Regions from separate parts of the Homo sapiens genome. Here region 1 is linked to region 2. The links come from fine-mapping of genetic effects on gene expression. A gene starts in region 2. The other region holds a variant in brackets. All regions are shown on one strand. Distances are between the middles of the regions.

Region 1 (15,187 bases), 970 kb after region 2:
GCCCAGTCCGTCCAGCACCTGGCCTTGAATTGGTTACTCGGAGGACACACCCCAAGTGGCAAGGCCTGACTCCCCTAGGACGGGGGCTGCACCCTATGCCCCCTGCAACCCTGGGGCCAGGTTAGTCCAAGGGGGCCTGGGCCGGGCCTGACTTTAGGAGACTCTCAGATTCTGGTTATGATACTGTTCGCTAGGAAACAGCCTGCCAGGACGGTGCTCAACGTTCACAGCAAGAGGGGCCCCCCGACTCTCTCCTACCCTGGTTGTTAGGGAGAAATGTTCCATGGAACTGGGCTCAAGGGAGCCTACTGGTGGAGTCGGGGGGGTCTCAGGCCCCTCATGCTGGGCCAGCCTGACTCAGGTCACTGTCTCCTGGGTCCTGAGGCCACCTCCTCTTGGGGACTGAGGTGGAAACACTGGTTGCTGGGTGGTCTCCAGCAATTTCCATGGGGCCTAGGATGTTACCTGAGGTCCCGTGGCGGAGACCTCGTTTTTCTTTTAAGAGAAACTGAGTGGGCCGGGCGCAGTGGCTCATGCCTGTAATCCCAGCATTTTGGGAGGCTGAGGCAGGCAGATCACTTGAGGTCAGGAGTTTGAGACCAGCCTGGCCAACATGGTGAAACCCCGTCTCTACTAAAAATACAAAAATTAGCCGGGTGTGGTGGCACGCACCTGTAATCCCAGCTACTCGACAGGCTGAGGCGGGAGAATCATTTGAAACCCGGGAGGTGGAAGTTGCAGTGAGCTGAGATCGCGCCACTGCACTCCAGCCTGAGCGACAGAGGGAGATTCTGTCTCAAAAAAACAAAAACAAAAACTGGGGGGCTTGTCATAGCAACCACGGTGACTCGGAGGCCTGCACCCCCCACCCCATTCTCCTTTATGAGATGGTGGCTGAGCCCCCCAGGGTGCCTGTTAGTCCTACATCTTCCAGGGTGTGCCCGTTTTGAGACCCCTGGTTGCTGAGGCCAGCTTTCCTCGGCAACGGGGTCCAGTGGACCTAATTTGCTTTCCGGTTGCCCCTAGCAACCATGAGAAAAGAGGGTTTCTGCACCTCAGCACGACTGCCATTTGGGACCCAGCTGTCGTGGGGGGCTGTTCTGTGAATTGTAGGGTGTTTTACAGCATCCCTGGCCTCCACCTACAAGAGGCCATTGGCATCCCCCTGTTTTCCCCAGTTGAGGGGAGGAAAAATGTCTCCAGACATTACTAAATGTCCCTAGGGGGTTGGGCTAGGCTGAATAACGGCCCCCTCCAAAGATGTCCACATGCAAATACCGAGAACTTGTGACTATGTTTCTTGATGCAGCAGAAGAGATCCTGTGCTGTGGGGAAGGTGAGGGACCACGAGTTGGGGGATTATCTTGGAGTATCTGTGCAGGTCCCACTGAGTCACCTTTTCCCAGCTAAGGTCAGTCAGAGGGATATATGGCGTCACTGGCTTTGAAGATGGAGGAACGGGCCTTAACCAGAGCGCCTAGGAACTGGAACACACAAGGAAACAGTCTCTGCCAGAGAGCCTCCAGGTGCAGCCCTCCAGGCACCCTGTTAGCCTGCAGAGACCATGTGGGACTTCTGACCTCCAGGACTGTACGAAAATCACTTGTGTTGTTTCAGCCACCAAGGCTGTGTCATTTGTTGACGGCGGCCATAGAAAACAAACACGGGGTGAAACCAGCTCCCCTAGTTGAGAACCACGGCTCCAGAGCAAAAGACCTGACCCTGGGACTCAGAGTTTCTGGTGACAAGGCCAAAGCTGCCCTGGCTCCTGGCCTCAACGCTGGGCCGTTTCCTTTCAACGGGGTCCAGGGGTCCAGGAAGGGGCATGGGTCCTGTGAGGCTGATGCTGCCTGACTCCCCTCAGAGCAGACGGCTGTCCACGTGCCCTGCAATGGGGCCCAGTACCCTGTTTCACTGTGTCCCCTGTGACCCCGTGTCTCAGGAATGAGGGCTGATTTCCAGGGCAGGCGCTCTCTTCCCTTGAGAATTCTGGCTACCTCTGGTTGCTTGGGCGAGTGCCCCTTATGCTCTCTACTGAACACTGCATCCTCCCAAATTCATGTGCTGAAACCCAATCCCAAGGTGATGGTATTAGGAGGTTATGTTAGGAGGTGATGAGGTCATGAGGGTGGGGCCTTCATGAATGGGATTAGTGTCCTTAGGAAAGAGGCCCCAGAGAGTTCCCTTGCCCCTTCTGCCATGTGAAGACACAGCACCAACGTGCTGTCTGTGACCCAGGAAGCAGCTCTCACCAGGCACCAACGCTGCTGGCAGCTTGATCTTGGACTTCCCAGCCTCCAGAATTGTCAGCAATAAATTTCTGTTATTTGTAAGTTGCCCAGTGTATGGTATTTTCTTATAGTAGCCTGAACGAACTAAGACACCTTTGCAACAAACCCTCTGCTCTCCTGATTGCTAGAGAATTTGAGTCTTTGATGACCAGGACTGGGAGCCCGGGAAGGCCGGATTCCCCAGAGCAAGATCTTGCACATTCCCATGAACTCAGCTTAGAATTCTGGTTGCTAGGGACCATTAGGCCCTAGCCCCAGGGTGAGGTGACTTGTGAGACCTGCAAAGATGGTGACCAATTTGTCCTGGGTTTAGACTCAAAGCCCTGCATCCCAGAAACACCCTTCAGTCCCAAGCAAACCAGGACGGTGGGTCACCGTCCTCCTGGACAGAGGTCCAGAACCTCTGTTGGCAGGATGTTCCCTGACCCCCAACACAGAGCCTGTCATCTTCTTAGGGACTCCTGGGAGCCAGTCCTCAGGTTGCTAAGGAGACCCTCCTCAGGCCCCAGCCTCTCGGGGAACCTGCTCACAACTCTGCAGATAAGACCTCAGCTACGACAATGGTGAAGGAGCCCACCAGCTGGGCGTCCTCTGCAAACCAAACCCCAGAGCACCTGCTCATGCTGGACCTCTGCCCGCCACCCACCGCCCCCGCCACCCACGCCCCCCGCCACCCACGCCCCCCGCCACCCACGCCCCCCGCCACCCACGGCCCCCGCCACCCACGCCCCCCACCACCCACGGCCCCACCACCCACCTGCCAGGGCCTGCACGGAGGGCTGGTCATGAGTGCTCAGGAGCTGTGCCTGGATGGTCTCCACCACTCGCTTGAACCGACGGCTGGGACCTAGAGGCACAGGCGGGCAGAAAAACACTGACTGGGGGTCCAGGACCGGGAAGGCCGTCCCAGCCTGCAGAACCCAGTCCCTCCACCAAGCACACAACACCCCCCCTGCATCTCCGTCTCCCCTGCTCCGCTGGGGCCACATCAATCCACGGTTTGCAAATGGGTCTGTGCTGCTATTTAAGGATCACGGTCAAACTCACATACCTTCAACTTCAAATAACAGGTGTTGGTTTCTATTCAAATAGATACTATTGCTTGCTGTTAGTTTCTAGCGGAGGCCATGAAGGACCAGAAATGTAAGAAAAATAAGTTGGAGCCAGGTACAGGGGCTCATGCCTGTAATCCCAACACTCTGGAATGCCGATGTGGGCAGATCACTTGAGGTTGCTCAGGAGTTCGAGACCAGCCTGGCCAACATGGCGAAACCCTGTCTTTACTAAAAATACAAAAATTAGCTGGGCATGGTGACGCATGCCTGTAATCCCAGCTACTCGGGAGGCTAAGACAAGAGAATCTCTCGAACCCAGGAGGCAGAGGTTGCAGTGAGCCCAGATCACGCCATTGCACTCCAGCCTGGACGACAGAGCAAGACTCTGTCTCAAAAAAAAAAAAAACCAAACAACAACAACAACAAAAAAAAAGAAAAAGAAATCGGAGAAAGTCTTTTCTTTTTCTTTTTTCTTTTGAGACAAGGTCTCATTCTGTCACTCAGGCTGGAGTGCAGTGGCGCGATCACGGCTCACTGCAGCCTCAACCTCCTGGAATCAGGTGATCCTCCCACGTCAGACTCTGGAGTAGCTGGGACTACAGGTGCATGCCACCGTGCTGGGCTTTTTTTTTTTTTTTAAATTGTGTGTGTGTGTGTGTGTGTGTGTGTGTGT[GTGTGTGTGTA/A]TAAATTTTTTTGTTTGTTTTGTAGAGATGAGGTCCATTATGTTGCTCAGGCTGGTCTCAAACTCCTGGGCTCAAGCAATCCTCCCACCTCGGCTTCCCAAAGTGCTGGGATTACAGGAGTCAGCCATCATGCCTGGCCTCAGAAAAAGTCTTAAAATTGAGAAAGGTCTGCATATTAGCCTTTTTTTTTTTTTTTTTTGAGACAGAGTCTCGCTCTGTCGCTCAGGCTGGAGTGCAGTGGCACAATCTTGGCTCACTGCAACCTCTGCCTCCTGAGTTCAAGCGATTCTCCTGCCTCAGCCTCCTGAGTAGCTGGGATTACAGGAGCCCACCACCACGCGAGGCTTATTTTGGTATTTTTAGTAGAGACAGGTTTCACCATGTTGGCCAGGCTGGTCTTGAACTTCTGACCTGCTCGTCTCAGCCTCCCAAAGTGCTGGGATTACAGGCGTGAGCCACCGCGCCCAGCCTGCATGTTAGTCTTTAAGGGGGACAGAAAAATAAAGAGTCATAATTGGTTTTGGTGACGGAACACCCACAGTTCCACAGCCGTTTGGTTTAGAAATCTTTGGGGCAAGCCCCTCTCCCACCTGTGACATATTAATATTGGTGACAAAGAGATCGGCGATATCCCTCCCTATCCAAATGCTCACTATCAGGATGGAGGGACCAAACAGAAAGCAGAACTGGAAGCAAGGTATTTTAGTGGTTTTCCTTTCTTGTGCCAAGCCTCGACTGGTCATGGCTGCCTGGAGTTCAAGTTCCTGAGGCTGCCACTGAGCTTAGCAGGAATAAGCACTGCCATCAATTGGTAATGTCTGCTCTGGGCAGACTGATATTAGACAGCAGTGTGCTGTGTCTTCACCCTTTGGCTCTACCATCTTAAAGTAATAGGAAGAGCTGGGCTCTCTCCTCTGAAGTTGGGAGGCCTGGGTTGGGCTGCAGCTCTGCGACAGTGTATTGTGTGACTCTGGCCAAGTCCATTGACCTCCCTATGACTCAGTTTTCTCCTCCGTAAAATGGGTGATTACTAACACCTCAGTAGGCTGCTTGGAAGCTTCAAGGAGATAATGCATTCATTATTTACACTGTAAATGCCAGGGAAATGCTGATGAGAGTGGGGAAATAGAGGATGGGCTTGTGGGGCGGTCTGTGTGGGCAGGAGGAGCACAGAGAGTCGGCACCAGCTGAACACCATTTCCTCCTCCTGCTGCTGCACTCCTGGGCCCCTACACTGTCTCAGCTGTCGTGAACAGTCCCAGCACTGGGCTGCAGGCAGCCTAGCCAAGAGACTCACCCGAGATGAGAGTGAAGGTGACGGAGTAGATGCCACCACCTCCGCTGCCGTCCCGTCGCGGGGAGGGCTCTGGACCCTCAGAGGAGCTGATGTCCACCTGGAAGCGGACGGGCTTTTGGAAGACGGAGGGGCCGCCACTGGCCTTGTACTCGGCCCTGAAGCTGGTCTGTGACAGCACACTGTGACTCAGGCTGGGGATCTGAGCGAGGTAGGAACACAGGAAGGGGTGAGCCCAGGAAATGGATACCCAGCCCCACGACCAGCTCTGGCCAAGGAACTACGAGTCCCATGAGCCACTGGAGGGAAAGAAGGACAGGAAATGCATTGGGAGGCCCCACTGCCTGCAAGGACTTGTAGCTTTCTCTATCCTATCAGCGAGTAAGGGAGGAATGGTTGGACATCCCCCTAACATCATGAGGACTCTGATAGCTAGGTGACAGCCTCAGACTCCAAGACCACATGAAACACTGCTTGCTCCCTTTACAAATGCTTCCCATAGCCATATCTGTCACAGAAACTCTAAGTCCCATCCACCCGTAGGCATAAAACCACAGACCAGCAATGGGGCAGCCTTAACATTGCCTGGGAAGTTTCTTCGGCTAGTTTCAAACCTCGCAGTAGGGGAATGGGAACTCACCAATCCTTGAGGACATTGCAATTCAGGATCCTATTTCCCCAATTCCAGGCCTCTGGCCACGATAAATCTTTCCTGCCTACCGACTTCTAACCAACTCTGGCCATAAAACTACAAATCCCATGAGCCCCAGGAGGAAGCCAGGCCTATGCTAAGGTGGTTAGCCCCAGGGGCTGCTGGGACTTGTAGTTCTGCGGGGGCCAGGCTCGATGGGGACCCAGGCCCCTCACCGACAGAAAGGCATGGACGATGTCTGCTTTGATGCTGCTGAGAGGTTTGTCCTTTAGCACGAGGAATATTTGTTCTTCTTTGTCCAAGGAGATGAAGTTCCCGAACCAGGAGCGTTTTGCCAGCCTGAGTGGGAGGGGGTGGTTGGAGGAGGGTTAGGAAGGCGCCGAGGGCATGAATCCCCTGCATCCCCACTCTTTCCTTCCCTGTGAGACTCACTCCGGGGAGGACTCTGGCGTCAAGCTGGACATCTCCTCAGCGGTAGGGACTGGTAGGGGGAAGGCAGAGAACGTGGTCAACACCTGTGCATCATCCCAGTTGCCAGCACACAGGCCTGCACTCGCCCCCTCCCAGGGTTCCAGAGCCTTGGGTTGCAGCCTCGGCCAAGCCATCCCTCCTGGGCGGGGCTCACAAACCACGGGCCAATGGGAGGTAATCCAGAGCCCCAAAGGCGCGTGCCCTTCAATCGGGGTCCTCCTCCAGAGCTAGAGGCCCCACCTCTCTCCCCAACAGGTGCACCTCTGCTTCAAACCCCCTCTTCTCTAGAACGTGGGAATCCAGGCCCCCAGTCCCTTCCTCTCTAGACACGCCAGACGGACATCCCTGGAACCAGATTTTTAGCCCCAACCTCTCCCCACATTAGGACTCGGCAGTTCATGCCCCCATACCCTGCATCTTGCGCCGGTGAAAGCGAGGGGAGCCCAGGAAGCTGTTGCGGATGGAGTTGAGACGACTCCTCCAGGCGGCTCCCCCGACGCCACCGCCGGGGCTGGGGGGTGGTGTTGTCCCCGGGGTCCCGGTGGGACTGGCCCGGGGCGTGTGCAGAGGCGAGTGCAAGGGGGTCCCGCCAGAGGAGCGCGGGGAGCCTGGGGGGCCGGGCAGGGGTGTGGAGCGGGCACTGGGGGGCGGGGGCTGCTCCCCGGCGCCCCCACCCCTGGGGCCCCGAGAAGGCAGCGTCTGCGTTTTGGAAGTCGGGGAGCCCCCGCCTCGAGCCTCATCTCCAGCCCCCGGCTCCGGTGAAAAGGAAAAGACCGGACTCTGCAGAGGACAGGAGACTGAGATAAGCGAGTGGACTACAACTCCCAGGAGGCTCTAGGAGCCCCACTCACACGCACACTCACGGACGCTGGCCCGGTGCATGCTGCAACTTGTAGTCCAAGTATCCTCCTTCCCAGGCCCCAGAGCAAGGATAGCAAAGACTTTCTATCATGCTGTGGGCTGAAAACCCAGCCGGTGCAGATACTAGTACACAGCAGGCACTCAACTAACTTTTGTAAAATCTCTTCAGGCATGCAATCCTAAGGAGGTAGAAATGGCCAATGGACCAAAATACTTTGGAGGCCTTGGGTCTTTGGCCCTCCAGGGACAAAGAAGCAAGTCTCAAGACTGCACAGGAATTGTAGTTTCTGCTACTCAATCTTTGCTCCATGTCTCCACCCCTTTCTCCTTCTTAAATCCCACTGGGGACCTGGCCTTACCCTTGGGCTGCTTAGAGGGCTGGAGGACAGACCCGTGGAGGCTCCACTGACGCTACGGGATCTGTTTCCAGGATAGATTTAAAAAAAAAAAATCAGATGGGAGGGTTTCAAAAACCACAGATGTTCCCTCACTTCTACAGTCCTTCCAGGTGAGGAAATGAGGCCCAGAGAGGGGAGGTGAATTGTCCCAAGGACACAGCACATTTGAGGTAGAGCTGGGGTTAGAATCTTGAACTCCTAGACCCAGGGATTGTGGATCCTCCTGGAGGGACAGGGGCTCCCACCTCTGGCTGTGCTGGGCCATCTCCAAGGCCCGTCGGGTGGGTACAGGGGAGCCACCACCCCCGGCATCGGTGATGCTCAGGACTTCCATGGACTTCCGCTCTGGTCGCCGCTTCCCGTGACGGCTCAGCATGGGAGAATCCACACGCTTCCGGGGGGGGTCTGAGGGACAACAGTTTCAACCCAATCAAGAGATGGTTTCACCCAGCTGTGTACAACTGCCTCAGAAACTGCACACATGGGGAAACAGGCCTAGAGTGGAGAGGGGATTTGATAAATGTCAAAGAGCAAGTCAAGCAGTCTAAAGCTGGAAGCTCAGAGCCTGCAGCCCCTTCTTTCCTTGGGAATCTGGGGTCCCCGTGGCCAGCCTCTTCCAATCTCGAGACCCAGGTGTCTGGTCCCCTAGCCCTGCCTTCTCACCAACATCATTCCGGGGAGGCAGGTCCTGGTCCTCACAGCTGGGATACCGCTCCTTCCGATCCAAAAGCAGATAATATATCATCTTTTCTTGGTTCTCCCTAAGGCAGGGGGTGGGAAAGGTGGAAAGAGGTAGCAGAGGGCTGAGGTCCAACATCAATGCTCAGAGGAGGTCTCCTCCGCTCCCTGTATTTCTGCCCATGGTTCCATTTTTTCTAGGTATCAGTATGGTCAGTTTCTCTGGTTTAGGGTACATCTCAGCTGTGTTTCACTCAATTATAATAACACTGTAACACCTAACATCCAGGCAAGAACTATTTGTAAGTACTATGTATATGTAAGTACTATGTCGCAGCATCTATTAATACTTTCTCAGCGTGTTTCTGGGCCGTTTTCTCCGCTGGTTCCATCACTCCCAGGCGGGAGCTTCAAACCATGCCCCATGAGAGGCCAGGGTTCCTCGCCCAGCACTCTGCATGTGCGCAGGGAGCTGCTGCAGCTCGCCCCACGTGGGTACACGGGTGCAGGGGTCTTGGGGTCTTACTCCTCACTGCGCAGCTCGCGATGCAGCCTCTCGCGGTCCCTGAAGCAGCCCAGTGATGCCATGCTCTCTAGGACGTCGGGGTCCAGCTCTCCGTTGGATGGCAGGCTCCGCATGGCTACCCGGCGGCCAGGGGCTGGCTCCAGGCACGGGTCTGGCTCGTGTTTCCCGCCTCTGGGGAAGTGGAGAAACATTATTGGGAACCGGGCTTCTGAGATTCAGCATTCTTCATTCTAGACTCAATGATCCCGGACCCCGAAATCCGAGTCTAGGCCCCGGCCCCTTCTCTCTCATACCCAGGAATCCAGACGCCCCAGACCTCGCCCCCCATCTCAGACCCAGGAGTCCAGACCTCCAGCCCCTTTTCCCTCCGACCGAGGGGTCCAGGCCCCCGGCCCCTCCTTCTTCAGACCCAGAAGTCCAGGCCCCCAGCCCCTCCTCCCTCGGATCCAGGAGTCCAGGCCCCCAGTCCCTTTTTCCCTCAAACCTGGGAGTCCTGGACTCCTAGCTTAGCCCCTCCTGCCTCTGACCCCTAGACTCCTTCTCTAGCTGTGTCCTCTTCCCCCAGGACCCATAAGTCCGAGTCCCTAGCCCGTTGCCTCTCAGGAACCCTGGCATCCCACCCCTCCCAGCCGCTTCTACTGCTTTGGCCCCTCCCCTATTTCCGCCAGGGACCCAAGAGTCCAGTTACCCCATACTCACAGGTACCAAGGATGTTTCTGAATTTGCTCCAGCTGTGAGGGTGGTGAGTCGTAGAGAAGCAGAAGTGAGGTCGTAGGCACATGTAGGCGCGCAATGAAAGACTGGGGTGGTTTTGGGGTCCCTGATCATCTCCCCGCCCACCCCACCGGGGGCAGGATGACATATTACATCGCCCTCTAGTGGCGACTGAGTGCATCGCCCCGCGCACGCGCGGTCTCCGTGTACCCCGGACCGGCCGCATTACTTTGCCGCATGCGCAGTGGCATCCTGTTCGCCTCCTTACTCCTGCGCCCTCCCGCTGCCTGGAGCTCCCCGCCCCAATCTTGCGTAGCCCCCTCCCCAGTTTGGAGCGGCAGCTGTGCTGGACCTTGGGCTGCGGCTCAGCTGGCGATCCCAGTCACCCTGGGGACTGACGAGCAGGTTCTGGAAACCCATCCCCATGACTTTTCTAGGGGGTTCTGTCTTCATCGGCCACTGTTCCCCCCTCCGCCGGTCCCCCCCTCAACTCACACTGAGCCTTTTTTCGGGCTCCACTTCGATCATTCCCCTCAGGAGGCTCTGGCAATCTGGAGGAATGAAGTGGGGCATGTGGAAGACGCCCCGTTTCACCTTCTCCAGCAGCTGGCGGAGGTTGTCGTCATCAAAGGGCAGAGCCCCCTGGGCAAGAGATAACCAGGACCCCTCATTAGCACATTTCACCCTCACCACAAGCACTGGAGGTGGGGAACTACGGTGATCTCCACCTTAAGGGGTTGGAAACTGAGGCACAGAGAGGCTCAGCAATTTGCCAAAGGCCCCTAGCTCGTCCGTGGCACAGCAGGCACTTGGCAAGGAGCAGCTTGGAGCCCCGCTTACGAAGCTAGAATTGCAGCGTGGAGGCTGTTCCTTTTAGACAGCTTTCCCCCCACAGCAGTTTCGAAACGGTTGTCTCTCATTCACTCATTCAACAAAAGGTGAGCATCCGTTACAGGTCAGGGATCCAGCAGTGAACAAAACAGGCCTCTGCCCTTGCACAGCTCCAAACAAATAGCTATACAATGACGAGCGACTGAGTGAGGCTTCTCCCAGGAGGTGCAATGGGAGCAGAGACCTGAATGAGGCTGAGCCCTAAATCAATGACTGGTGTCCTTATAAGAGGAGACGAGGACGCAGGCACAGAGAACAGTCATGTGATGACGGAGGCAGAGATGGGAGTGATACAGCTGCAACTGAAGGAACGCCAAGGACACCAGAAGCTAGGAGAGGCAAGGAAGGATCCTTCCCTAGAGCCTCCAGAGGAAGCAGGGCCCTGCTGACACCTTTTCTTTTCTTTCTTTCTTTCTTTTTTGAGATGGAGTTTCGCTCTTGTCGCCCAGGCTGATGTGCAATGAGGTGTTCTTGGCTGACTGCAACCTCTGCCTCTCCCAGGTTCAAGCGATCCTCCTGCCTCAACCTCCCGAGTAGCTGGGATTACAGGCATATGCCACTATGCCCGGCTAATTTTTTTATTTTTAATAGAGACGGGGTTTCACCATGTTGGCCAGGCTGGTCTCAAATGCCCAACCTCAAGTGATCCACCTGCCTCAGCCTCCCAAAGTGCTGGGATTACAGGCGTGAGCCACCACACCCAGCCTAATTTTTGTATTTTTAGCAGAGATGGGGTTTCACCACGTTGGCCAGGCTGGTCTTGAAGTCCTGACCTCAGGTGATCTGCCCGCCTCAGCCTCCCAAAGTGCTGGGATTACAGGTGTGAGCCACCGCACCTGGTCCCCTGCCTTGCTTTGAATCCTTGCTCTGGGGCTTATACCTGCATGACCTCAGGCAAGTCACTGCTCTGAAAATGGCAATGGGTCGTCACAGCACCCACCTCACGGACTGCATCAGAATGAACTGACCTAGTACATGACAGTGCTGGGCCCACAGTCAGGACTGTTACAGGCTGGCTGCTGTGACGCACTGACCATAGACCCCACCACATCCTGCATTCTGACGTAGCCACCAGCCATGAAGCAGGGGACAAAATCACATCCCTGCCCTCCTGGAGTTGGCCTGGGACGCTGCCTGACACACACTCGACACTCAAGTCATCAGCAAAGGTGGTGGAATGAGCAGAGAAGTTGCATTCCAGAGGGGACAGGAAACAAACAAGCGAACGTATCATACGGGACGGGAGGGAATGCTTCCAATCACCAGGGCAAGGGTTGGAGGGGAGCCAAGGTGACCCCCCATGGACAAAGACTCATGGGAGGTGATGGTGTGAGCCTTTGAGGGCTTTTCCGGGTGTTGCAAGCTCCCAGTTGCCCCTGGTATCTGAGGCCTGTGGACGGAGAATGGGGAGATACAGAGAAGGCACCTCTGAATGCCGATCTTAGGGTGCGGAAGCCTGGGTTTGACTTCTGGTTGCCTGATGCTCAAGCACAGAGCCTCAGTTTCCTCTCCTCTGTGAAACGGACATAATGATCCTGCCAGGAAGGGTACGGTCTGGATTAAATATTATAACAACAGGCTGGGCATGGTGGCTGACACCTGTAATCCTAGCACTTTGGGAGGCCAAGGGGCGAGGATCACTTGAGTTCAGTAGTTTGACACCAGCCTGGCCAACGTGGTGAAACCCCATCTCTACTAAAAATACAAAATTTAGCCGGGCAAAGTGGCGGGCGCCTGTAATCCCAGCTACTCGGGTGGCTGAGGCAGGAGAATTACTTGAACCCAGGAGGCGGAGGCTGCAGTGAGCCGAGATCACACCACTGCACTCCATCCTAGGTGACAGAGAAAGTCTCCATCTCAAAAAAAACAAAAAACAAAACAAAAAAAAAAACCAAAACAAATTATAACAACAATACAGTTGATTCTTGTTATTCTTGAGAGTTCTGTTCTATAAAGTCACTGCAAACTCTCAACTAGTGAACGAGTCACGGCTACTGGAGGAACTATAGTTAGTAAGCTTCCTTTGACCCTCTCGTCACATTTTTGTCAACCAGTCATTACATGACCTTGTTTGTATGTGTTTCTGTTTAAAGACACTTTTCTTTTTTTATTGAGACGGAGTCTAGCACTGTAGCCCGGAGTGCAGTGGCATGACCTCGGCTCACTGCAGCCTCCGCCTCCCGGGTTCAAGCGATTCTCCTGCCTCAGCCTCCTGATTGGCCAGGCTGGTCTCGAACTCCTGACTTCGTGATCTGCCCGCCTCAGCCTCCTAAAGTGCTGGGATTACAGGCGTGAGCCACCGCACCCAGCTTAAAGACACCTTTCATATGTACTGTGTCATTGACGCGGAACTCATGGCCAGCAGCACTACAAGTCATTCCTGAACAAAGCATGCCCATCAGAGGGGCTTTCTCCAGAAGGGACATCACAGCCTCCCGCGCTTAGGAACACCAGACGGCACTTCAGAAGCACTTGGCTTCATGGCCATTTTAAACAACGAAATTGCCACCAACAACACAAAAATGTGAAAAACGTGACACGAAATAGGTGGTGAAAGGGGGATTGTTTACAGGATGAGAGCTGAAACAGGGTCACTTTGTTTGACCTCAGCCGGAAACCTGCACCTTGGGTGGGCGGCTCAGGTTTCCCCTGCTCTGGGCATGTCTGCCAATGACTGTGAAAGCACCTCCAGGACTATTTTGGGTTACAGATACATTTTGACAGGTAGGCAAATTTGCAAATATGGAATCTGCAAATGATGAGGAACTATTGGAACAAGAATAAACTACTAGGCCAGGTGCGGTGGCTCATGCCTGTAATCCCAGCACTTTGGAAGGCTGAGGTGGGCAGATCACTTGAGGTCAGGAGTTCAAGACCAGCCTGGCCAACATGGTGAAACCCCATCTCTACTAAAAATACAAAAATTAGCCAGAAATAACTTGAACCCAGGAGGTGGAGGTTGCCGCGAAGAAGATCAAGCCATTGCACTCCAGCCTGGGCTACAGAGCAAGACTAAGACTTCATCTCAAAAAAAAAAAAAAAAAAAAAAAAAAGAAGAAACAAAAAAAAAAGAATAAACTACTAATAATAATCATCAAGCATTGTGCCAGGGGCTTCACGTGCAGCATTTATTTAAACCCTCACAGTGGGCTGGGGGAAGTGGCTCACGCCTGTAATCCCAGCACTCTGGGAAGCTGAGGCGGGTGGATCACCTGAGGTCAGGAGTTCGAGACCAGCCTGGCCAACATGGAGAAACCCCATCTCTACTAAAAATACAAAAAAATTAGCCAGGCATGGTAGCAGGTGCCTGTAGTCCCAGCTACTTGGGAGGCTGAGGCAGGAGAATCTTGAACCTGGGAGGTGGAGGTTTCAGTGAGCCAAGATCGCACCATTGCACTCCAGCCTGGGCGACAAGAGCGAAACTCCGTCTCAAAATGAAAAAATAAATAGATAAAATAAAAATGAAAACAAAACCCTTACAATGATAGGTATGATGTGTATTTCCACGGTGCAGATGAGGACACTGAGGTAGGGTGACTGGCTCGCTCAGGGAGAGGGAGCAGGGATTGGAACTCGGCTGGATGGGCTCCAGAACCAGGCTTTTAGCCACCAAGTGAAGAAGGGCTGAGTTCTGAACATTCTTAGCTCGTCTCCAGAGCACCTCGGCTGCTCTCCCCATGGAGTGGTGAGCCCCAGGAAGCCAGCTTGGAGCTGGCCTCATTGCCCTTAGTATCCGTTATGTAGCCTGGTGGTTAAGAGACCAAGGACTGACCCCAGGCCTGCGGCTTATCAGCTGCGTGCCCGTGGGCCAGTCACTTCCCCTCCCTGGGACTGCTGAGGGAATTGTGTGAAATAACATGATCAGAACAGTGCCTGACATTAAAAAAACTGCTTATGGCTGGGCGTGGTGGCTCACACCTGTAATCCCAGCACTCCAGGAGGAAGAGGCGGGCGGAGGTCAAGTTCGAGACCAGCCTGGACAAAATGGTGAAACCCCATGTCTACTAAAAATACAAAAATTAGCCAGGCGTGGTGGCACATGCCTGTAGTCCCTGCTACTTGGGAGGCTGAGGCAGGAGAATCGCTTGAATCCAGGAGGTGGAGGTTGCAGTGAGCCGAGATGGCGCCACTACACTCCATCATGTGTGACAGAGCAAGAATCCGTCTCAAAAACAAACACACACAAACAAAAAAACTTATGTATTCTTTTTCTTTTCTACTTATTACTTATTTATTTATTTATTTTTGAGACGAGGTGTCACTCTGTCATCCAGGCTGGAGTTCGGTGGCATGATCATGGCTCACTACAGCCTTGACCTCCAGGGCTCAAGCAATCTTCCCACCTCAGCCTCCTGAGTAACTGGGACTACAGGCAGGTGCCACCATGCCTGGCTAATTTTTTTTTCATTTTTTTTGAGACGGAGTCTCGCTCTGTCGCCCAGGCTGGAGTGCAGTGGCATGATCTCGGCTCACTGCAAGCTCCGCCTCCCGGGTTCACACCATTCTCCTGCCTCAGCCTCCCGAGTAGCTGGGACTACAGGCGCCCGCCACCACTCCCGGCTAATTTTTTTTGTATTTTTAGTAGAGACGGGGTTTCACCACGTTAGCCAGGACGGTCTCGATTTCCTGACCTCGTGATCCGCCCACCTCGGCCTCCCAAAGTGCTGTGATTA
Region 2 (16,104 bases):
CTGTTATGGCAGCCCAAAACAGACTACGACAGTGGTTATATCTAGATGATAAAGAAATATATATCTATATATAGATATAATTCTACATATTTCCATGTATAATCCTACAGATATAAATATGTAGATCTACATTGATATATATCCTATATGTCTAATTTCATGTAAGCTGAATTTTTCTTTGAAGGATTATTTAAAAGAGCAAACTACTGAAAACAACCTGAGTGGCCATTAGTATGTGACTGGTCAAACAAATTGTGGACTTCCATACAAGAAATATTATTCAGCCAAAAACGTATAAATAAGAGGTTGAGGATGCTCCTTATGAACTGACACAGAGTCATCTTCTGGAAGTATTATTAGGTGAAAAAAGTAAGGTGCATACAGAACAGTGTGTATAATACGCTGTCTTTTTTGTAAAAATAGAAACAAGAGGACTTTGAATATATAAATACACATTTGTTTCTACTTGCATAAAATATCTCTGGAAGGATCTGGAAGAAATAATTAATATCAGATTCTTTCGGGGAAGGGAAATGAGTGAATAGGTTGGGAAGGAGTTTTTTCCAGTATAACCTTGAGAACTTCTTTAATTCTGAACCCTGGAAATCTTATTTTAAATGAAAATAACATGATGTTTTAAATTGAATAATTAATTAGTAATTTAAATGTAATTAAAGTTTATGTAAATACTGTTTTGTTAATTGAAATATTAATAAAATAATTTAACATAAAACATTTTAATTAAAACAGCATAATATTTTAAATTGAAACAAAAACAGTGTGGATCATGAGATGTTTGCATTTGTTTAGGTTTAGAAGGTTCAGCTTTTGAAGATAGGAAGGAACTAACATAGGCTAGCTTTTTAGGTATAAAAAACCCAAAATGTTATCTGCAGGCATTTTAGCTCACCAAGTCTGGTGTGGGGATTAAATATTTTTAAAGTTTCCCATGTGATTCTCATGATGATGGTCCAGTGTGAGGATTCAGAGCTTTGGAAACCTCAGACCCCATATGGGACACTTACGATTTTGAAAATTAAATTGCATGACGTATTTTAAATTCTCAGTACATGCTAAATGCTTAATTAATATTGGATCCTTTTATCTCCTTTCAACCTGAAATAATAGCATTAAATTATGTTCTCACAGTCCTTTCCATTTTGCAAGGCTCTTTCCATTTATTTAGTCCTACTGAGCGCTAGGAATTTTGCTAGGCTATAGGAATAAACAGATTGAGTAAAGTACAGTCCCTGCCCTCTAGGAACTTACAGTCTTGCAGTCTAGTAGGGGTGGAAAAAAAAGAGATCTTTTTCCCTTCCATGTGACTTGGAGCAGAAATTCTCGAAGTATCATCCAAAGACTACTTGGTGGGGGTGGGAGGTGGTCCCTGAGATCCTTTCAGGGGATGTGATGGTTGATTTGGGGTGTCAGCTTGACTAAGGCACCCATATAGCAGTAAGACGTTTATTCTCAATGCTTCAGTAGGCACTGAGTCCATCCGTCTTCTGCTGAAAGGGAAGCCTGAGTGGTTTGGCATTTGATTAGAATGTTTGGGCTGCCCCAGGTGTGTCTGTGAAGGTGTTTCTGGAGGATATTGGGGTGTGAGTTGGAAGACTAGGTAGGGAAGATCCACCCTCACGGTGGGTGAGCACCATCCAGTTGGATGGAGGCCCAGCTGAAGCCAAGAGGTGGAGTAAGGGTCAATTCTTGCTCTCCCTTCTGCAGCTGGGATGCCCTTCTCCTGGCTTTGGATGTCAGAACTCCAGGTACTCCAGCTTTTGGGATTCTAGGACTTGAACCAACAGCTCCCTGAGCTCCCAGGCCATTGGCCTCAGACTGAGAGTTAGTTAGACCATCCATCAGCTTCCTTGGTTCTGAGGCCTTCAGACTTGGACTGAGCCACACTACTGGCCCTCCTGGTTCTGCAGCTTGCAGACCCCACAACTGAGTGAGCTAATTCCCCTAAGAAATTTGTTCTCAAATATCTCTATCAATATCTTTATCTATATATGTATCTATATGTATATCTTCATGGTTCTGTCTCTCTGGAGAACTCTGCCTAAAACGGGTCTGCATGATCTTCCCTTTTCCAACTCCTTATCTGTGTGAGATTAGATTTTCATTTGCTTCAACCAAAATAGCACATTGTGGCTGGGCGGGGCGGCTCACGCCTGTAATCCCAGCACTTTGGGAGACCGAGGTGGGCAGATCACTTGAGGTCAGGAGTTCAAAACCAGCCTGGCCAACATGGTGAAACCTTGTCTCTCCTAAATATACAAAAATTAGCCAGGCATGGTGGCATGCACCTATAGTCCCAGCTACTTGGGAGGCTACTTCGGATGCTGAGGCAAGATAATTGCTTGAACCCAGGAGGCAGATGTCATGGCGAGCCGAGACCGTGCCACTGTATTCCAGCCTGGGCGACAGAGCAAGACTACGTCTCCAAAATAAACAAACACATAAAGCTAAAAAAAAAAAAAATAGCACATTGTGACAGACTGAAGCAGAAATGAGAATTCAGCTGTTTTCTATTAAACTAGACATCAAAGAGATTTGCAAAAATGTAAAATAATACCTTTCTTACTAAACTTTTTTGGTTTGGAAACAGCCATTTCACTAAAACATTTTATTTATGTCAGTATGTATATTTATTATCCTTATTTTTCAAATATTTTTAATTTCAGTAGCTTTAGGGGTACAAGTGGTTTTTGGTGACATGGATGAATTGTGCAGTGGTGAAGTCTAGGATTTTAGTGCACCAGCATCTTTGTAATGTACATTGTACCCAAAAGGTAGTTTTCATCCCTCACCTCCCTGCCACCCTCCTTCCTTCTGAGTCTCTATTATCCTTATTTTTTTAATGCAGTAATAGATATTTGAATAATAGCTTTACTGAGATATAATTCACATACCATGCAATTCACCCATTTCAGTGGTTTGTAGGATACTCAGACTTGTACGACCATCACTACACCAGTTTTAGAGGCTTTAATCACCCCAAAATAAACCCTGAACCCCTTAGTCATTGTCTCTAAATTCCCCCACCCCTCACCCCCTGGAAATCACTAATGTCCATTGTGTCTCTATGGATTTGCCTATCCTGAATATTTCATATACGGTAAACGGAATCAGGTAATATGTGATCTTTTATCACTGGCATCTTTCACTGAGAATAATGTTTTCAAGGCTCACACACGATGTTGAATGCATCAGAACTTTGTTTCTTTTTATGGGTGAATAATATTCCATTGTATGCATAGACCACACTCTGTTTCTCCATTCATTAATGGATGCATGCTAGGATTACCTTCACTTGCTAGCTCTTAGGAATAGTGCTGCTGTGAACATTTGTGCATGGGTTTTTGTGTGGACTTACGTTTCATTTATCTTGGGCACATACCTAGAGCGGAATTGCTGAGTAACTCAGTGTTTAACATTTTGAGGAACAGCCAGACTGTTTTCCAAAGCAGCTGTATCATTTCACATTCCCACCAGCAGCATATGAGGGTTCTGATTTCTCCACGTTAGTTAGTGTGAAGTGATACCTCACTGTGGCTTTGGCTTCCATTTTTCTGATGGCTAATGAGGTTGAGCATCTTTTTATGTGCTTATTTGTAAATAGAAATAGTTTTTGTAAATATAAGTATTTGTATTTGTAAATATTTATAATATTTGTAAATATAAATATTTTTAAGTTAAAAATCCTTGAATTTACAATAAGGTAAATATCAATAAAGATAACCTTTGGCCGGGCACAGTGGCTCACACCTGTAATCCCAGCACTTTGGGAGGCCGAGGTGGGCGGATCACCTGAGGTCAGGAGTTCGAGACCAGCCTGACCAACATGGTGAAACCCCGTCTATACTGAAAATACAAAATTAGCCGGGCATGGTGGCGCGCAGCCTGTAGTCCCAGCTACTCGGGAGGCTGAGGCAGGAGAATCGCTTGAACCCAGGAGGCAGAGGTTGCAGTGAACCCAGATCGCACCACTACACTCCAGCCTGGGCGACAGAGCGAGGCTCGTCTCAAAAATAAATAAATAAATAAAAATAACCCTCACTGGAAAAAAAAAAAAAGAGCTCTTTAGATCCTTAATAATTTTTTTCGCGTGTTCAGTGGCCCTAAGACCATGAAGTTTGCAAACCACCAGCTGGTGTTAAACATAAGCCAAGGTGTTATTCTAATGGAGATCTGCCCGAAGTCTCTCTTCCCTGATAAATGCTCTTCATTTTCCGAATAGGCCTCTCTTCCCCAGACAAAGGAGTGAAGGAGGGCTGCTCTTTTAGTTGTGAGCATCACTGTAAGCAAACAATAGGTTTGCTTTTCTGAGTCATGTCCAGACCCCATGGCAGGTCTGTGCACCAGATCCAAGTGCCACCCTTCCCCAGAATTGCCAGAGAGGTTGCAAGATCGAAAAGAATTTTAGGAGAGGTAGCTATGAAAATACAGACTTGGGGGTTCCACGGTTCTTACTTTTTTCTTTAGTTGCAACTGGAGACAAAAGCATCAGCCAGCCAGTTCACAACGGGAGCAGGGAGCAGAGAGAGAAATTAGCATTAGACTCAGATCAGTGCAATAACCAAGAAGACCAGAGATAGAAGTGTCCCTGGAGATCAGCTGACCCACTCACTGCTATCAATAAAGCTACTCGGGCCCATCTATCAGCCCATCCATCCATCGATAAGTCCATTCGTTCATCATCCATCCAACCAACATTCACATGGTACATGCTCTGGGCATTGGCCCATGTTTGGTGTTGGAGACGCAGATAAATCAGATTCAGCCCCTGCTCTGTAGGTATTTGCAAGGCTGATTGGGAAGAGAAGTTCTGGTATAAGAGTACACTAGACACCCCAAACTCTGTTCTCACAGAACTTGCTATCTATGGATGTCCCAAACATCTTACAGGTGCTTCAAGCTTAGCCTGTTCAAAAAAGAATCTGTGGTCATCACACTCCTATCCATCAAAAAATAATCTGTTAATGCAATACTTTTTATTTATTCTTACTATTTTTTGTAGAGATGAGTCTCACTATGTTGCCCAGGCTGGTCTCAAACTCCTGGCCTCAAGTGATCCTCTTGCGTTGGCCTCCCGAAGTGCTGGGATTAAAGGCTTGAGCCACTGCACCCAACCAATACGATAAATATCCCTGAGTTCACGCTGATATAAATAAATACAGTACTTGAATAAATAAATGGAGAAGAAAAGTCAGCTTTTCCTTACAGAGAAAGGCCATTGAATATATGTAGATGAATAAGGGGAATAGAAAATCACCATTGGAGAAGCACTGTAGCAATCATTTCTGCAGCAAGATCCACAGATGGATGCTAAAATTAATGGGCAAAAATTGGAGGAGAACAGGGTATTCGCATAGCCTCAAAATTTCTCCCCCAGCGTATTTATTAATTACAAAGGGGGAAAATAGTAACTTAACAGTGGAGAAACCTGGCAGACACCACCTTAGCCGAGGGACTAAAGTTTACACCATGGGTAATAAGACACATCAACATCATGTGGTCCCTGATATAATTCCCGGGGAAGGGTGTGAGACCACTTCTGTGGTATTCCTGCCCTAAATGCATAGTCTCAATCCAATCATGAGAAAGCTTCAGACAAACCCAAATTGAGAGAAATTCTGCAAAACAACTGATCAGAGCTCTTCAAATGTTTCAGGGTCGTGAAAGACAAAGATTGAGGAGGTTCAATCACACATCCTAAGGACAAATCACAAGACCAAAGGAGATGGGATAACAAAATGCAACATGGTTGAGCAAGAGCTGGATTTTCTGAAACAAAACAAAACAAAACAAAACAAAAAACTTAATTGAAAATACAAGGTGGGATCCTGGATTGGATCCTCAAATAGAATAGTTTTTCTATTAGTAGAAACATTAGTAAAATTTGAATGAGGTCTGTAATTTCTTTAATAGTTTTGTTCTGGTGTTGGGTCTTGCTTTTAGTCATTGTGCTATGGTTAGGTAAGATGTTAACAGCTGAGATAACTGGGTGAAGAATATTCAGAAACTTAATTTTTGTGACTTTTCCTCAAGTCTAAAATAATTTCAAAATAAATTTTTTAAAAAACGTGTTCCTCTACAGAGTTTTTTTTTTTTTCTTTTTTTCTTTTTGAAACAGAGTCTTGCTCTGTTTCCCAGGCTGGAGTGCAATGGCAGGATCTCGGCTCACTGCAACCTCCACCTCCTGAGTTCAAGCGATTTTCCTGCCTCAGCTTCCTGAGTAGCTGGGATTACAGGCCCCTACTACCATGCCTGGATAATTTTTGTATTTTTAGTAGAGATGGGGTTTCGCCATGTTGGCCAGGCTGGTCTTGAGCTTCTGACCTCAAATAATCCAGCTGCCTTGGCTTCCCAAAGTGCTGGGATTACAGGTGTGAGCCACCGCGCCCGACCTCTACAGAGTTTTCTCATCTCAGTTAAGGGCAGCCTCAATTCCCCAGTTGCAAATACATGTATGTATAAAGAGAGCCTTTCTGCATGCTTCTCTATCCCCAACCACCAGCATCTGACCCATCACTCAATCCTGTGAGCTGTTTCCTCAGTGCCTCGTAACCTTCTACTTATCCCCATCTTCACCCTGATGACCAAAACGTTTTCTAACTTGTGTGTTTGCCCCTAATCTGATTCCCACCTAATCCATTCTTTCCTGAGGGCAAGACACATTGTTTAAACACACAGAAACACACATACATGCACACACACGCTCCTAAATATGACACTCCTTTGCTGAAAACCCTTTCACAGCTTCCTTTTCCCTGAGGATAACATCCAACATTTTTCCTGTGACTCACATGCCCCCGTCTGTTCTGTTTCCTGCCTCCTGTCTCTTCTTACTTGTAACAGTCTCACCACCATGCCCCTCCTTCTGCCTACCACGTTCCTGACACACCGGCCTCTCTCTGATGGAGGGACTCAGTGCCTTCTGCCCCAGGACCTTTGCATATTCAAGTCTCTGCCTGGAATAGTCTCTCCTAACTCTTCAGCTGGCCAGCTCCTATTCCTTACCTCAAATGTGACTTTTCTAGAGAGGCCATCTCCGAATCCCCACACTAGAATGTGTGTGTTTAGCATGAGAATTCCATGAAGACAGAACTATTTTCATCACTATATTCCCAGCATCAAGCCCGTGGAAAGAACCAGGAATAAACATTTGTGGATCGAATGAGGAAATGGGAACTCAGAGTTATGGCAAGACCCAAGTCCTCTTCCCAATATACTCTTTGGTGTCTTTACGTCGCAAAAGTCTGGAGTCTCACTAGAATTATCTAACTATGGTAATGTTGACTTCCAGGCACTGCACAACGTAAGCTCGTCAATGACATGCAACAGTCCCATGAACTGGGGATTCTTGTGAGCCCCGTTGGTCAGATGAGGACAGCAAGGTTTGCAGACGCAGTGTCTCCCCAAAGTCACAGAATCAGTGATAGAAACCAGGATGCAGACACAAGTGTATCTCCAAGGGCAGGGGCTAGCAACCTAGACTCATTCACCCCACTGTGTCCATCAAGGGAAATGTGAATGTCTAAATGGGAAGCAAGAAGAAGTCTGTTAGACTTCAGGAGCTTCTCTCTGAATCCAGCCCACAAGAGCCTCCCAAGTTGTAAGAAAATACATAGAGGACACAAGGCATGGCTGGAAGCATTACCTTCACGAGGAGTACAGGCTTCTGCCAATCCCAGGAAAAGCAGAATCAGCAGCGACATTTTCAGAAATGGCTCTGATCTGTGCATGATGGGGCTGGGATTTGGGCTGAATGTTCTCCTCCTAGGATAGACAGGACTCTCTGGTCACCCACCGTCTTCCCAGGCTCCAGGGACAAAACTAACTGCCCACACCTGCCCTCTAGCCTGCCTGGAGGCTGGCAGGTCTCCAGACCTGTGCCCACGCCACCAACTGCTGACCAAAGAACTGTATCTGCTTTTTCATCTTAAAGCAACATTTTAGAACAGTTTCATGCTGAGTGTGATGCTTGTCATCCTATGATCTGCTGGCCAAATCCTGCCCTCCTCCTGTTTTTGTAGGGCCTATGAGCTAAGAGTAATTGTTACCTTTTTTAATGGTTGGAGGGAAAAAACAAAAGAAAATATTTCATGACATGAAGATTATATAGAATGTGAATTTCAGTGTCCATGAATAAAGTGTTATTGGAACACAGCCATGCCATTTCACTATGTATTGTCTACAGCAGCTTTCAGGCTGCAAGACTGAGCTTTGTAGTTGTGACAGAGACCATCTGGGCCAAAAGGCCTAAAATATTTACTGTCCGGCCCTTTATAGAAAACGTTTGTGGACCCCTGTCCTAGACGTACTGTAAATTTCAGAAAAACAACAAAGCAAGCAAACAACATCTATCGTATTTCTACTCAGAAGTAAGTATTGTTTTTACATTTTTGTGTATATTCCTTTCCAAAGATGTCTACGTTTATACTTACCTCTAGCACTTACTAGCTATGTACCCTGAGCAAGTTACTTAACCACTCTGTGCTTCATTTTCTTGATCTATAAAGTTGGGATAATGATATTTCCAGGCTAATGTGATACTATCATATCACACCTGTATGATAGTAAATTTGTACTGTTGTAGCCATTAAGTTTGTAATAATTTTTCATAGCAGCCACAGGGAACTAACTGTTTCCACTGGTAATTCTTAGAAATTGCTTTGACAGTCAAGAACTTTAGCTGTCAGTGGGAATATGAACTTGACCCAGTATCCCTCTGGACTCCTGGAATAAAGGCAGAGTGTAGAGACCACTGGTCTATCTAAGCTCTGAAGGTTTCTATGGTACTTCCTTCAAGCCTGATAGAAACAGAGGGTTGTGTGTAGTGTCCTGGAAGGAAAGAGTTCCAGGTGTGGAGGGATGTCCACTCTTGCAGGGGACTCTCTCCTGCCGCCATCTCTGGTGCTATCTATGTTTCAATCCCTAGTACAAGCTGGACCATCTCATGTACATTAGGGGATACCTCAGCGATCCTTCAGACTAGGCTGGAGGAGAGAGTTCTTGTTGGCCATTTGCCATATTTCAGAGCTCCCCTCCTTTGTGAGCACATGGTCCTGGCAACTCATCACCGGGAAAACGTGATACTACAGGATTTGTTATAATGAGCAGAAGAAACAAGGCGTAAAACATGTGGAAGGCTTTTCACATCCGGTGCTATGCGGAAGTAAAGACCACCCAATGAAAACAAGCAAAGGCTATTAATTCAGAGCTTGCTGTAATAAGGGAGGCCACTGACACCATTTGTGTTTGGCACAGACTCAAAGGCAGGCAGGGTAGTGGGAAAGCTTATAGTGAAAGAAAGGGAAGGCTTCAAGAGTGCCTGGTTGGAGGCCGTTGGCATAAGGAAGCTGGCAGTGGTTAATTAGAGGCCATTGTGATTGGTTGGGGGAGCATATTTGGATTTCTCTGATTAGTCCTACGTTTCGATTTTCCATCCTTCCTTAGCAGCCTCATTACCAGCACAGCTGTTTCTTTGCTTTATCAAATATAATCACAGTCCCTAACTCATAACACTAGGGTTTAAATGCAACAAATGCCTGGGATGTAGAACATCATTAATATTCTTTAGCATTATCTGCTCTGCCAGACTGTGATCTGGGGACAGAGATGAGTCAGATACTGGCCTTGCTCATGAGGAACTCATGCTTTAGGGAAGATCAGGATTTCTCACCATTGGCACAGCTGACATTTAGGACTAGATCGTTTTTGTGGTGGGGGCTGTCTTCCGCTTTGTGGGATATTTAGCAACATCTCTGGTCCCTATCAATTACACAGTAGCACCTGCCCCACCCACCCCACACCAACCACCACCGCCACCATGTTTGGGGAGCCACAACTAGGAAGTGATGAGCTTTTAGTGCTTATTACTCTATTTTTATTATAACTTATTTATGTTCAAGTTTATACAATTTAGTTTTGAGTATTGGGCTATGTTAGGCAAGCAGCTAAAATGAGGAATTTTACCTCAATTTAAAAATGTTTTAAATGTAGAAAACTGAAAACGTTAACAATTGACCCTCATAAGCTGGCTCCAGTACACGTATGTAATATTATTTTGTGTGTTTTTACATTTATTCTAAATGGTGTTTCACTGAATCTTTCTTGCACAACTTGCTAGCTATGTATGTATTTATTTATTTATTTATTGAGACGGGGTCTCACCCTGTCGCCCAGGCTGGATTGCAATGGCACGATTTCAACTCACTGCAAGCCTCCGCCTCCTGGGTTCAAACGATTCTCCTGCCTCAGCCTCCTGAGTAGCTGGGATTACAGGCGTGCGCCACCACACCTGGCTAATTTTTGTATTTTTAGTAGAGACAGGGTTTCACCATGTTGGCCAGGCTGGTCTCGAACTCCTGACCTCGTGATCCACCCACCTCGGCCTCCCATAGTGCTGGGATCTTTTTTTTTTTTTTCACCCAGCGTGATGTTTGTGAGATCCACTCATGTCTATGTGGAGCAGGGAAGTGGTGCTGGACCTGGAGACGGCAAAAAACCTGGTTGTTATAGTCACAGACAGCCAATCAGTTAGAATCACAGACATTGAGTCAATCCAGTGTGGATGCCAATCCCTGCCCCACCACACTACGGCTGGCCTGAGTTTCTTCTTGCTACCATAACAAATTACCATAAAATTTGTGACTTAAGACGACATAGATTTATTATCATACAGTTCTGGAATTGAGAAGTCTGAAATGGGTTGATAGAGTGAAAAGCCTTGGTAAAGCTACATTCCTTCTGCCGGCTCTAGGAGGAATTTGTTTCCTTGCCTTCTGCAGCTTCTACAGGCTGCCCACATTCCTGACTCCTGGTCGGCCTCTTTCATCTTCCTAACCAACAGCATGGCGTCTTCAAATCTCTCTCCAACCCTCTCCCATTTTCAGGCCAGCGATGGCCGGTCAAGTCTTTCTCACCGTACATTGCTCTGATTCTCTGTTTTCATCATTCCGTCTCCCTCTGTTACCCATTTCCCTCCCTCTTTCACTTACAAGATCCTTTGTGATTACATTGGACCTACCCCAGTAATCCAGGATAATCTCCCCACAAGGTCAGCTGATTAACAGTCTTATTTTTATCACATCTGAGAGTAACACACTCCCAGGTTCCAGGAGTCAGATGTGGGTATCTTCAGGGACAATTATTCTGCCTGCCTCACAGATGCATAAACTTGCTCAATTGACTATATCCCTGAGCCTCGGTTTCCTCCTATTAATGATAGCAACAATTATTATCATTAATTATTATATTATTATGCCATATAATTGTGAATGTTTTAAAGTATATTGAGGGGATGTGGAGAAATTGGAGCTCTTATACATTGCTGGTGGAAATGTAAATTGGTATAGCCCCTGTAGAAGATAGTTTGGCAGTTTCTCAAAAAGTTAAATATAGGGCTACCGTATAACCCTGAAAGTCCACTCCTAGGTATGTACCCGAAAGCACGGAAAACAGGTAATTACACAAATATTCACACACGAATGTTCACAGCGACACTATTCACTAGAGTCAAAATATGGAAATGATTCGAATGTCCATCAATAGATTAATGGGTAAAGTGTGGTATAGCCATATAATAGGATATTATTCAACTGTAAAAAGAAATCAAGTACTGATACATGCTAGAACATGGGTGAACCTTGAAAATATTATGCAAAGTAAAAGCAGCCAGACACAAAAGACTACCTAGTGTATGATTCCATTGATACGTAATATCCAGAACAAGTAAATCCTTAGAGACAGAAAGTAGATAGTGGTTGTCGGGGACTAGGAATGGGGAGGGAAAGAGGAATGGCTGCTTAGTGAGATGGGGTGAGGGGTAAGGAAAGTGTTTTAAAACTAGATGTGGGTGACGGTTGAACAACATCGAGAATGCACTAAAGGCCACTGAATTGTACACTTAAAATGGTTAATTTTATATCATATGAATTTTACCTCAATTAAAAAAGTTTTAAATGTAGAAAAATGTGTTAAAAGCTCTAAAAATAGCAATTAAAAATCCCATGTTACCAAAACAAAACAAAGAAAACAGTACAAGCATAGGGACTGTGCATATTAAAAGTAACTAAATTTAAAAAGTATTAAAAGTAACTAAATTTAAAAATTAAACCAGCAGCAGCAGCAGCAGCATCTGAGGCTTCTACAGGGAAACAAGTGGAAATAGTTCAACCCCTCTGTACAGTTCCTGGGGCAGTCCCAGAGCTTGAGCAGGTGGGAGGGATGAGCATTCTGTCCCTGCCGCAGGGGCCATTACACCCACAGGGGCAGCGCCCACACAAGGGGTCTCGGCTGCAGCTGGCATGACTGGCTCAGCCACACCAATGCTTCTGTGTCCTGGGCAGCCTGGCTTCCCAACCCCCAAGGAGTCCCAAGCCACTGACTAGGTCCTAGAATAGACAACCCATGTCCTGGGCTCTGGCTGGCTCTCCAGTCAGTTCCTTCACATCTATCCTAGATAGAGGAGCCCTTGGAGTCTTCTGTCCCCCACTAAACAGATAAGGGAGCAATGGGTCAGAAGTTTCAGGGATTTTTCCCAGAAGGGACCTGAAAAGTGTCATCGGATTTAGCCAGGCTCTGAAATCATAGAGGTGCGGGATCAAACCTCAGCTCCCTCCACCTCCTGGCTGTGTGCACTAGGACAAGGATTTCTTTTCTTTGGACCTCAGTTTCTCAGGGAGTAAAAATGGAGGTGTCATAGCAACAGTCGATACTTTTTCTAGCACTGACTACATCCCAGATGCTCTTCTAAGAGCCTTTGCCTATAATAACTCCTACAACACTATGAGATGGGAACTGTTATTAGCGTCATTTTATAGATGAAAAAAGTGAGATCTAAAAGCATAAGGTCCACTCAGAATCACACCACTAGTAATTGGCAGGACTGGGATTCGAAGCTAAGTATATGAATCTGCAGTGAATGCTCTAAACCAGCCCTGTCCAGTAGAACTTTCTGCAGTGATAGGAATGTCCTGTATCCGTGCTACCCAGAATGGTGGCCACTAGCCACGTGCGGCTGCTGAGCACTTGAGGTGACGCTAATGCAACTAAGGAAATGAAGTTTTCATTTTATTTCATTATGAAGCATGTAAATCTAAATAGCTACGTGGTAAATCTAAATAGCTACATATATTGGACAGTGCTGCTCTAAATCATGATACTAAGCGCCTCTCAGCCTTAATAGACTATATACCTAACAGGGTTGCTATGACAGTTCTGACAGAGCCATATGTGTAAAAGCACCCTCTGTGAACCAAGCAGTCTCGGTGTTGGGGATGCACTTTCTCTAACCCTGTGGAGTTTATAGTCTGGTGTAGGAAGACAAACAACAATATTGACAAACACATATATAATTTCATGTACTGGTCATTGCTGCAAAGAAACTGAAATAGGGCCATGTGTTAGAGACCGATGGGGTTGAGATGCTGCCGTAGCTAGAGTTGTCAGGAGAGACCTCACTGAGATGGTCACATTTGAGTTTAGATCCTAATGAAGATCTGGGGTAAGAGTAGCTTAGACAGAGGGAACAGCTTGTGCAAAGACCCCGAGGCAGAAAAAAGCAGAAGGAATTTGACACGCAGAAAGAAGATCATTGTGGATGGAGCAGGGTAAGCTCATGGGAATGTGGAGGGAGGAGAGGTTAGAGTGGTAGGCAGGGGCCAGATTGTCAACAAACCTGAGTGGGCTCCGCCGTGAGAATGATAGTAAGCACAAACCAGGAACATTCCTCTTTGTCTGCTTTCCCTGGGCCCTCTTACACCCACTTGGTTCTCTATTAAATATGGGCATCTCCGGCCAGGCACCGTGGCTCACGCCTGTAATCCCAGCACTTTGGGAGGCCAAGGCAGGTGGATCACGAGGTCAGGAGATCGAGACCATCCTGGGTAACATGGTGAAACCCCGTCTCTACTAAAATTACAAAAAATTAGCCGGGCATGGTGGCAGGTGCCTGTAGTCCTAGCTACTCGGGAGGCTGAGGCAGAAGAATTGCTTGAACCAGGCACCGAGATCGCGCCACTGCTCTCCAGCCTCAGTGACAGAGTGAGACTCCATCTCAAAAAAAAAAAAAAAAAAAAAAGTGGGGGCATCTCCCAAGCAGAAAGCAAAGCCTAAGCCTACTCACTTCTTTGGGGAGAGAGGAAGAAAGTCTTGGACAGTAATTGAGCATCCTCTTTGGGCACCTGCCCCAACAACTTCACACACATTATCATCTCATTTAACTGAGGTTGGATCTGCAAAGGCAGCTTGGCTTGGCAGAAAGAGCGGGAGCTTTGGAATGAGGGCCTAGATCTCACCGTGGGCTCTATCACTTGGTGCTATTTTTAGCAAGCATGCAGTAATAATCATAATACTCTCAGCAGTTAAGCTTAATTGGGTGATTATGATGTGCCAGACGTGGTTCTAAGCACTTCATATCTATTAGCTCATAATTTTAAGAGCTGGGTAGTATTATAATTTCTCTTTGCAAATGAGATAACTTTGCCCAAAGTCAACAAAGCCAATAATTGGAAGAGGTAGGATTTGAATCTATACAGGTATGATTGACATTTGTGAACTTGTTTAGCTGCTAAGTCTCTATACCCTGATTTCCTTTGGAAGAATTACCTCTGCTCCACTGTATGTGGTCCTGGTGGGATAGTTAATGCACGTGCCCATTTTCTCATAATGAAAAGCAAGCAGGGTCCCTCAAAGCTCCTTGCACCAGATCCTTATTTTTACACTAAAGCCAACCAACCTTTGTCCTAAGCCAGGCTAATCAGACTGCTTACCTGGCACTTTAAATCTCGAATTGAGTAAAGCAAGAGTGGAAGAAGCAGATTTAATGCTTTTCAGGTGAGAGTGTTGAGTGGCTCATGATACAGAAATCTCTTGGTTTCCCAGGCTTCACTCTTTCCCAAACCCACTCTCCAGCCTTCACTTTAATCCTTTGAACTCCACCCCTTTGCCAGTTCCTTCCAGTGATTTCTCTTTTAAGCTAGCCAAAGTCCGTTTCTGCCACTGGAACCCAAAAAACCTGCTTGATTCAAGAAGTTCAGCTCTGTTTGTGTTCTAAGGCAACCTCTGGCTGCTGTCCTTCTGTACATAGTCTTCCTTCCATTGGATCTCTCAAAGAGAAAGCTCACTTCCTCAGTTTACTTTCCACCAGCTTTAAGTTTCAAGCCTTACTGCTTGCTTACAGCTTTAACCACTTACATAGAGTATAGGTGCATACTAGATGCTCAATTAATATTTGTTGAAATGGTATTCAAGGTGAAAGATTGAGAAGTGAAGATGGTTTGGAATTGTGTTGTTGATGCCTTTATCATGGGAGTGCCCTGTGCTAGGATGGATCTGAGAATGGTTTTTTTGTAATTCTGAAATAAGCCCATGTGTCTCCCCTACTCCAAATCCTTCCATGGCTCAACATTACATACAGGATAAGCATTTATTTAATTTATTTATTTATTTTTGAGATGGAGTCTCACTCTGTCACCCGGGCTGGAGTGCAGTGGTGTGATCTCAGCTCACTGCAACCTCCGCCTCCCAGGTTCAAGCAGTTCTCCTGCCTCAGCCTCCCGAGTAGCTGGGATTACAGGCGCCTGCCACCACACCTGGCTAATTTTTGTATTTGTAGTAGATACGGGGTTTCACCATGTCTGCCAGGCTGGCCTTGAACTCTTGACCTCAAGTGATCCACCTGCCTCGGCCTCCCAAAGTGCTGGGATTACAGGCATGAGCCACCGCGCCCAGCCCTAGGATAGCATTTATGACTAAAAGCTTTAGTGTGACCTAGATCAAGAGTAGGAAAACTTTTTCTGTCAAGAGCAAGATAGTAACTATTTTTGTCTTTGTTAGCCATATGGTCCCTGTCGCAATTACTCAACTTTGCCACTGTAGTGAGAAAGCCACCAGAGACAATACATAAGCAAGGGGAGCTAGCTATGTTCCAATAGAACTTTATTTATAAAAACAAATGGTCAACTATAGTTTGCCAGCCTCTGATACAGACTCTTCATACTTCATAGTCCAGTCTCCCAACACTTCCTCATCTTACCTTGATTTCTACTAAATGAAACTTTGACTTCAGGATTCAGATCTGATGTCACTTCCATA

Which allele goes with the higher level. Alleles are on the strand shown, and positions count from the first base shown. SD is a standard deviation of normalised expression in the study named.
In carriers of allele GTGTGTGTGTA in region 1, the expression in B cells of the gene that starts at base 7,835 in region 2 tends to be higher than with A alone (large effect, 1.0 SD a copy in Fairfax 2012).

What was found. PIP is the estimated chance that this variant, and not a neighbour inherited with it, causes the effect.
Region 1: its variant is the best candidate, but not a certain one, in a credible set for the expression of EDDM13 in B cells (Fairfax 2012, PIP 0.54).

Annotation. Positions count from the first base shown.
Region 1 is chr19:55,296,590-55,311,776 of GRCh38, reverse strand. BRSK1 (BR serine/threonine kinase 1) reads right to left here. Exons shown (of 19, transcript NM_032430.2): 8 at 10,119-10,265; 9 at 9,609-9,640; 10 at 8,910-9,080; 11 at 8,369-8,466; 12 at 7,951-8,110; 13 at 7,667-7,727; 14 at 6,857-7,226; 15 at 6,408-6,456; 16 at 6,191-6,314; 17 at 5,327-5,525; 18 at 3,049-3,138. It also overlaps a transcript of TMEM150B not described here. Among named protein-coding and RNA genes, the nearest start is that of BRSK1, 20 kb to the right of the region's middle. RefSeq lists a silencer at 8,242-8,536. The variant GTGTGTGTGTA/A (reference allele first, on the strand shown) is at 4,020.
Region 2 is chr19:56,264,479-56,280,582 of GRCh38, reverse strand. EDDM13 (epididymal protein 13) reads right to left here and starts at 7,835. Exons shown (of 15, transcript NM_001354658.2): 1 at 7,664-7,835; 2 at 4,474-4,491. The coding sequence starts at 7,748. All of the region lies in intron 2 of ZSCAN5A (zinc finger and SCAN domain containing 5A), which reads left to right. LOC124900420 reads right to left here and starts at 7,835. Exons shown (of 5, transcript XM_047439799.1): 1 at 1-7,835.